Regions from separate parts of the Homo sapiens genome. Here all the other regions are linked to region 3. The links come from fine-mapping of genetic effects on gene expression. A gene starts in region 3. Each other region holds a variant in brackets. All regions are shown on one strand. Distances are from middle to middle.

Evidence for each region. PIP is the estimated chance that this variant, and not a neighbour inherited with it, causes the effect.
Region 1: its variant is fine-mapped to the expression of ZNF544 in whole blood (INTERVAL, PIP 0.98).
Region 2: its variant is fine-mapped to the expression of ZNF544 in whole blood (INTERVAL, PIP 0.94).

The regions. Positions count from the first base shown.
Region 1 is chr19:58,205,610-58,208,370 of GRCh38, forward strand. It overlaps ZNF274 (zinc finger protein 274), which reads left to right. Exons shown (of 8, transcript NM_133502.3): 5 at 1,111-1,593. Among named protein-coding and RNA genes, the nearest start is that of ZNF544, 22 kb to the right of the region's middle. The variant T/C (reference allele first, on the strand shown) is at 1,271.
Region 2 is chr19:58,284,883-58,287,643 of GRCh38, forward strand. ZNF8 (zinc finger protein 8) reads left to right here. Exons shown (of 4, transcript NM_021089.3): 2 at 835-961; 3 at 1,228-1,323. ZNF8-ERVK3-1 (ZNF8-ERVK3-1 readthrough (NMD candidate)) reads left to right here. Exons shown (of 7, transcript NR_144447.1): 2 at 835-961; 3 at 1,228-1,323. Among named protein-coding and RNA genes, the nearest start is that of ZNF8-ERVK3-1, 7.3 kb to the left of the region's middle. The variant A/C (reference allele first, on the strand shown) is at 1,096.
Region 3 is chr19:58,227,555-58,230,315 of GRCh38, forward strand. ZNF544 (zinc finger protein 544) reads left to right here and starts at 1,360. Exons shown (of 7, transcript NM_014480.4): 1 at 1,360-1,392; 2 at 1,914-2,016. RefSeq lists an enhancer at 1,236-2,062.

The DNA.
Region 1 (2,761 bases), 22 kb before region 3:
CAGGTGTGAGCCACCCCGCTGGCCAAATTATTTAGAATTAGCATTTTGAAGGGGAGTTTTAGAGAGCTTTCTTGTTTCCTCTTGTTTTGTGCTGCCTCCTCAGCATTTCAGGACAGTCCTGGAGTTCAGTTTAGCAATGTGCTCTTGTGGACTCTGTGCCAGGACCCAGAGCCCCTGCCTTTCCCATATATCCTCGTTCTTGTCCCCAGTGGAGGTTGGAGAAGGTTCTTTTTCCTGTGACCATGCATACATGTACAGTGTCACAGATCCCTTCTCAACCCTCATTGCCTTTTGTTCTTTCCCTATAACAGCTCTATGGAGATATAATTCACACATTGTAAAGTTCACTCTTGTAAAGTGTACAGTTCAGTGTTTTTAAATATATTCACAGGGTTGTACAGCTGTCACTACTGTCTAATTCCAGAACATTTTCTTCACCCAAGAAAGAAACCGCATACCCATTAGCAGTCTCCCACCAATCCTCTCAATTTCTCCATTTCCTAACAATTACTAATCTACTTGTCTGTCTGTGGATTTTTATATTCTGGACATTTCATATAATATGTGGCCTTTTGTGTCTGGCTTCTTTTACTTAGCATGATGTTTTCAAGTTTCACCTGTGTTGTAGCATATATTAGTAGTACTTCATTCCTTTTTATTGCCAATATTTCATTATATGACTAGATCACAATTTGCTTATACATCCCTCAGTTGATAGACAATGGGTTATTTGTACTTGTTGGCTATTATGGATAACACTTTGGTGAACATTCTTATAGAAGTTTTTGGGGACATATGCTTTCAATTTTCTTAGCTATATATACTTGGGGGGAATGTCTGGGTCATGGATAACTATGTGTTTAACTTCTGAGGATTTACCAACCTGTTTTGCAGAGTGGTACAGCATTTTATGTTCCCACCAACAGTGTGTGAGCATTCTAGTTTTTCCACATCCTCTCCTGTTATCATCTGTCTTTGGTAACAGCCATGCTAGTGGGTTTGAAGCATATTCCACTGTGGTTTTGACTTGCATTTCCCTAGTGAATAATGGCGTTGAGCATCTTTTCATGTGCTTGTTCTCATTTGTCTTGCTCTGCTTTTGACTTACAGAGTATCCTGAGCTCCAGCTGGACCCTAAATTGGATCCTCTTCCTGCTGAGAGTCCCCTAATGAACATTGAGGTTGTTGAGGTCCTCACACTGAACCAGGAGGTGGCTGGTCCCCGGAATGCCCAGATCCAGGCCCTATATGCTGAAGATGGAAGCCTGAG[T/C]GCAGATGCCCCCAGTGAGCAGGTCCAACAGCAGGGCAAGCATCCAGGTGACCCTGAGGCCGCGCGCCAGAGGTTCCGGCAGTTCCGTTATAAGGACATGACAGGTCCCCGGGAGGCCCTGGACCAGCTCCGAGAGCTGTGTCACCAGTGGCTACAGCCTAAGGCACGCTCCAAGGAGCAGATCCTGGAGCTGCTGGTGCTGGAGCAGTTCCTAGGTGCACTGCCTGTGAAGCTCCGGACATGGGTGGAATCGCAGCACCCAGAGAACTGCCAAGAGGTGGTGGCCCTGGTAGAGGGTGTGACCTGGATGTCTGAGGAGGAAGGTAAGTAGAAGGGTGGGTAGAGGGACAGCTTAATGAGGGTGTCTTGGAGTACCCTGTGGGGGAGATAAGAACTCCAGGCTTCCTAGGAAGGTCATGGGAAGGATTGTGTCCGCTCCATACAGACCAAGGACATCCATGTTGCCCACGTGTTCCTGAGTCAGAGCCACTGAAACCCTTGCATTCTTTAGCCCTTCGTGGGCTTCTGATGGAAGCACACAGATGAAGTGCTTCATTTTTATCCCTCTGGCATCCCTGCTGCACCATAAGCCCTGTAGCACTTGATAAGATAGATGGGAATACTGAGCTCAGAGAGCCCGCAGTAGCAGGAGAGACAGGGATTTGACAAATGAGAATGCATAGAAAAATGCTGGGACTATGAGGAGCTCGAGGTGATGGTGAGGCTTATGAAGGTCTGCAGCTGACACCTGGTGTGGAGTGGAACTTGGCCAGGGTAAAGAAAGGGGGCAGGAAAGATGTGCCATGCAGAGGGGAGCACTGCCTGTAAGGGCCAAGATGGAAGGGATCACAGTAAATGCAAAACTCAGAAAAATCGGTTATGTTTGTGATGGAAGGGAGCAGAGGTTGGAGCTGGCACTGCCAGTGGGGACTTTAGTCCTAAAGCAAAGCAAAATGTTCTTCTAAAACAGTAGGGCTCGATCCCTGAGTTCCAGAAACTGGTGGCACCACTGGATTTGACCTTTAGAGATTTACCAGGCTGCATGTGTGGTGGATGGTGGACAGAGGATGGGGGCGAGGCTGGACACAGGCTACCCGCAGCTATTGCCATGCCCTCTGATGGGGTGGTGTCTTGGATAGGAGTGATGGTGATGTCTGACTGGGGAGAGACTACACGTGTGGAGTGTGTATTTGGGAATAAGACTGCAAGACTTGGTTTCTTCATCAGGCTGAGTTTCACAGAGCGTGCATGCTTCTGCATTGCTCACCTCCATTTTCCACATTTCACGGGTGCCCAGAAGATGTTTCTGATGTGAACGAATGATTGACTGGTTGATGTTTGTGATTGCAGGAAAGGGGAAGGTATCCTGCAGGGGGATGGTGGGATTCTAAGAGGCCAGGGCATCCTGGAGATCGGGTATCCGAGGCAGCAGGGCAGGCACTTGCATGAGTTGTGTCAGATGCACCAAGTCTGGGGTGCTGTACTTGGCAG
Region 2 (2,761 bases), 57 kb after region 3:
CCTAATTTTCAGCTTCTCTTCAGAGATGAGCAGTTCTGACAAAGGGACCTGTATTTTCCCGTAATCAGTGAGTTCTGAGTCCCTGCTGCTCCTTCAGACAGGGTCCATGCTCCCCATCACCTCCAGTCCCACCACTCATAGGTAAGTGTCCTTGTGGGCTCTTAAACTGGCCCACTTCTGTCATGTGAGCCTGCCTTGCCCTGAAAGCAGGCGAATTTCTGACCCCAGCCCTGTGTGCTTCTCTTTTCAGGAAGGATGGTGAACCTGTTTTTTTGTTTTTTTTTTTTGAGATGGAGTCTCACTCTGTCGCCTCAGCTGGAGTGCAGTGGTGTCTTGGCTCACTGCAACCTCCACCTCCTGGGCTCAAGCGATTCTGCTGCCTCAGCTTCCCAAGTAGCTGGGATTACAGGCATGTGGCCCAGCCAATTTCACTTTGTATCTAAGTATTAGTGAGTGTATTAGTTAGCTGCTGTGTAACACTGTCCTAAAACAGTATCTGTTTTACTTAAAACAGTAACTGTTTCTTTAGCTCACAAACCTGCAAATAAGTGGTTTAGGCCAGTCTCTGCTGGTACCCTCGTCTGTCTTGTTAGATGTAGGTCAGCTCTGCCTGGCGTTGTTGATCTTGGTGAGTCCTCTCACATGTCCTCACTGTACAACCCACACCTATGTGTAGTGGCCTAATAGGTGCCCAGTGAGACCTGACTCCCATCATTCATAACGTGCAGTCTCTCGTGACACAGGCCTGCCTGTTTTCTCCTTTTCCATTCTTCCTCTGCCAGAAAGCACTGATGGAGATAGTCCAGCTGATTGAGAATGTGTGTGATGTTTCAGGAACCAGTGACCTTCCGGGATGTGGCTGTGGACTTTACCCAGGAGGAATGGGGGCAGCTGGACCCTACCCAGAGGATCCTCTACCGTGACGTGATGCTGGAGACCTTTGGTCACCTGCTCTCCATAGGTAAGCCCTGCTTCGCAAGGTGTGATAGCTGATTCTCTCTGGGTTATAAGTCATGGGGCCTCTGGTGTGAGGACCTGACCTTGGGTCCTCACTCCCTATGGGGAGTGCATGAAGAGGGAGGTCTGCCCTTTTCC[A/C]TCACCATGCAGAGCTTCACCATGTTGTGAGGTGCCCACGTGTCCTCACAGTCGGGAGTCTGGTCTGGAGCCTGGGCTTGTTGTTTCTCTCCTGAGCAGCCCCTCACCTCCTGTGTTTTTCCCCATTTCCAGGTCCTGAGCTTCCGAAGCCTGAAGTCATCTCCCAGCTGGAGCAAGGGACCGAGCTATGGGTGGCTGAGAGAGGAACCACCCAGGGCTGCCATCCAGGTGAGAACCCACTATGTGGGAGCAGCTAATGGGAGCAGCCTAGCAGGTCACTGGAGATGCACTTCATGGAAAGGGTGGTGGTTGGTGGTCCTGAAGACCACCCCATTCACTAGGAGTATACAGGACTCAGCATAGAGTCATGCTGACAGCTCTCAGTATAATGAGACCAACAAAGGGGAAAGGCGCGTGGGGATAAGTTCAGAGGAAGCCAGGCATGAGCCTCCAGAGTCCCCTCACTGTGGAGTCATTCAGGATGTGCCAGGCTCCCCCAGCACTCAGGTGTGACACCTCATGAGACATGAGCTCTACCAGGGAATCTTGTTAAGAGACTCAGTGCTAGGAGTTTTGACTGAGGCTGCCACATAGACACTCTCTGCCTAGCACAGACCAAGGTTCCAGACTACCAGGAGAAAGCCAGTGTTTGGAATAAACCACATAGTGTGTGCAGTGTGGGTGTAGTAAACCACTCTCATCAGTTAGGGTTGTGGGAACCATCCCCAAATCCAAATTCTCAGTTGCAGCCAAAGGCTAACCTTGTGAATAGGCTTCTCCTAAGAATGCTGGTTTCAGGCCTGCCCTGTTAAATCTTTTCTGCACAGTGCTCCATAGCCTTCTCACCTGTGCTCCCCATCTTCTAAGCTCAGAGGTCATCACCTGTGCTCCAGTGCTGAGAATCCCACCCCTTCCTCCCTCTCTGCTTCATCTTCCCTTATAGGTTCCAGGTCATTCCCTCTCTCACCATCCTTCTCAGCATGTCCTTTCTGTGGCATCATTTCTAATATGTGAACCTGCCCTTCATCTTCTCCATTTCATTCTTGCATGTCCAGATTCTTTGTGTTTTGTTTTGTTTTTAAGACAGGGTCTCACTCTATCGCCTAGGCTGGAGTGCAGTGGCGTAATCACGGTTCACTGCAGCCTTGACCTCCCTAGTTCAAATGATCCTCCCACCTCACCCTCCCGAGTAGCTGGGATTACAGACATGCACCACCACGCCCTGGTAATTTTTGTATTTTTAGTAGAGATGGGATTTTGCCATCTTGCCAGGCTGGGCTCGAACTCCTGGGCTCAAGCAATCCACCTACTTTGGCCTCCCAAAGTGCTGGGACTACAGGCGTGAGCCACCATGCCCAGCTTTTTTTTTTTTTTTTTTGAGACCGTCTCTGTTGCATAAGCTGGAGTGGCAGCAGTGTGATCATGGCTCAGTGCAGCCTCAGCCTTCCTGTCACAAATGATCCTCCTGCTTCAGCCTCTTGAGTAGCTGGGACTACAGGTGTGTACCCCCACACCTGGCTAATTTTCTTTTTAAATTTTTTTGTAGAGACACAGTTGCACTGTGTTGCCCAGGCTGGTCTCAAACTCCTGGGCTCAAGCAATCCTCCTGTCTTGGCCTCTCAAAGTGCTGGGATTACAGGTATCAGCCACTGCACCTGGCCTTTTT
Region 3 (2,761 bases):
GCGTGGTGGCGGGCGCCTGTAGTCCCAGCTACTCGGGAGGCTGAGGCAGGAGAAAGGCGTGAACCCGGAAGGCGGAGAGTGCCGTGGGCCTAGATCGTACCACTGCACTCCAGCCTGGTGGACAGAGCGAGACTCCGTCTCACAAAAAAAAAAAAAAAAAAAAAAAAAAAAAAAGACTGAGGGAACCTTCCCAGGAAACCCCTAGCAGCCTTATTTCTCCTTGGCCAGAATATCCTTGCCTAATTCACACAGCAAGAAGCTTGAGTCCATTCTGATTAGCTTAGAATCCATCAAGATCCTCCCTTAGGGAGTTAGATTCTAGATTTCCCGGAAGAATCTAAAAATTGCAGGGTCGTGCTAGCCAGGTATGAAAATAAGCAAGTAAAAAGATGATGACTGTTGGGTAAAGCTATCGACAAGGTCAGCTACAAAACAGTCAAGCCAAGGAAGGCTAGTCACAGATGCACCCCAGACACAAAAGCACAGTCCAGGAGCTGAGGGTGCCTGAGCCACAGTGGTTCCCGCCTACCTGGCCTTCGTAGGAAAGTTTCCTGTGGTCTCCCTCATTGAAGAGCCAGGACGGGTCAGGCGGTGGTGGGTCTCAGACATTGAGCCCCACAACGCACTGAGACTGAACATCAGACCATTTATAATAACAGAACTCTGTCCCACAACTTCTGCAGCAATAGGTACAAAACAGAACTTGGTCACTGCCAGCCTCCCTATTTTTTTCCCTGTCCCACTTAGGAGCTACCACAGAAAGCCAAATAGGCTCGACTGAGCGATCACCTAGGACGAATCGCCTCCAGTTAGCGTGCTTCCACCTTCCACTCGGAATGCTCCAAGCAGGGCACTCCCGGGGCTTTGTTTCTATCACTAGGACGCGTCCCCACGCCCAGGCTGTCCCTGAGTCCCTGCCACAGGCGCAGATGTTGGCGGGCGCCCTTGCCCCTGAGCTCCCGGTTAACGGCCTTGGACTGTTCTCATGGCTCAGTCTTGGTCTCTCTCCCCAGCAGGGCAAGGCGCCGGGAAGGCACCCGAGATGACAGCGCCGAGCCCCATAGGCGCTAGTCCCGCCCTGGACGCCGACCGCCGCCTCCACAGTCTCGGCTTCGGTTGCTGGATGAGAACCAGCGTGGCCCGTTTAAGGGGGAGGGGACAGGCGCTGCAAGGAGCAGAGCCGCGGGAAGCAACTCCCTAAGCCACAATGCTAGTCGCGAACACAGGAAAAAGCTCATCCCGCCGCCGCGGGGCCCCATGCTCCCGCCGGCAATGACTATGCCTGTGGGAGCAACGGCTACCGGCGCGCGGCCTTCTGGGAGTTGTTTGTTGCGCGGAGCGCGGGCACGTCCGCCGGCCACCGGAAGCACCGCCATTGGCCGGTGCGTGCAGGTGAGTCTGGCGGCCTCAAGGTTGGCTCGGAGGTTTCACTGTTAGCCGGGTGCGGCCGGAGCGCAGGACCAGGCCAGAGCCGCCCCAAGTGATCTGGGCGTGCCGGAGAAACGAGCAGGGCCTGCGGGGGTCCCTCATGCGGCGAGGCCGAGCAAGGGCAGGGGCCTGATGGGATCGGGATCTCTCCGGCCTCAGGGACGGGGAAGGCCGGTCCAGTCAGGTTTCCCCTGCAGGAGCGCCCGGCTGGGTCTGAGCTTGTCGGGAGGCTCTCCTGCTGCAGAGCTGGGAGGGAACTTATAGTACCTCGCAGGTACGGGCAGGGGTGGAACTGGGTGGGACTGGGTGGGACTGGGTGGGACTGGGTGGGACTGGGTGGGCCCTCCCGACAGAGGGTGCCTGGGTCGAGGGCTGCAGGGGCGGGGGATTCAGGCTGGCGTCTGGAGCTCTGGGGCTGCCGACCCAGCGGGCCTCTCCCGGCTCCTTTTTCCTCCCTCAACTCATCTTCTGCGGCTTATCCACAGGTGGCAGCCAAGAGCCTCCTGGCACAGCGGCACCAGGCAGGTGACGCCTATTGGACCCCAGAGGTCATCCCAGCTCCAGACGTGGACACATTTTCTTCCAATGGTACGTGAAGCTTGAACCTTGCAGAGAACATGTGTATTTTCCAAGTGAACAGAAGATTAAGGCCAGTCCACGCAGGGCAGGGGTAACTGGGGTGTTGGGGGCCTGCACTGGTTAAGCGATGCTGGTGCACCCCATAGAGAGACTACAGAGGTGAACAGGATGGGATGTGTATGTAACGCCTGTAAGTTAGGGATCGGGGTTCCATTTGTGTTGGGTGATATTTGATGGGGACCGTACAAGGCAGTGCTAATGAGGAAGGCATGGGGTTGGATTTCAAGAGTCTAAGGGAGTAGGGAAACATCTGATTGTGGAAATGACTCCGTGTAAGGAGGGATGCCAAAAGACAGGAAGGAGTGGAGGAAGACTGTGTTTCTGTTTCCAGCGTGGAGCCAGGGTAGAAGTCACAGTGCAAGGAAGATGTGGTATGCCTGGTCAGTCTCTGCATGGGAGTTGAGGAGCATGTGGGTGACATGGCTGAATGTGGAGGAGGGAATGGCAGTGGCAGGAAGCCCAGGAGGTTTGGGCTGGACACGTAACCTGGAGCAGATTGGAAACGTCACCCCACAAGCAGGGAAGGAGAAAACTGGAAAAGGAAAGAGAAAGCAACTCCCTCCCCAGCCCTGCAGCCAGAGGGACTTCTGCCAGATCAGCCACCATACAGGTCCAGTATGAGGAACAGATGGGGAATTTTATGTCCAAGTATAATCACTATGAATACATGTGTTGTGCCCCTTTTGCAGGTTAA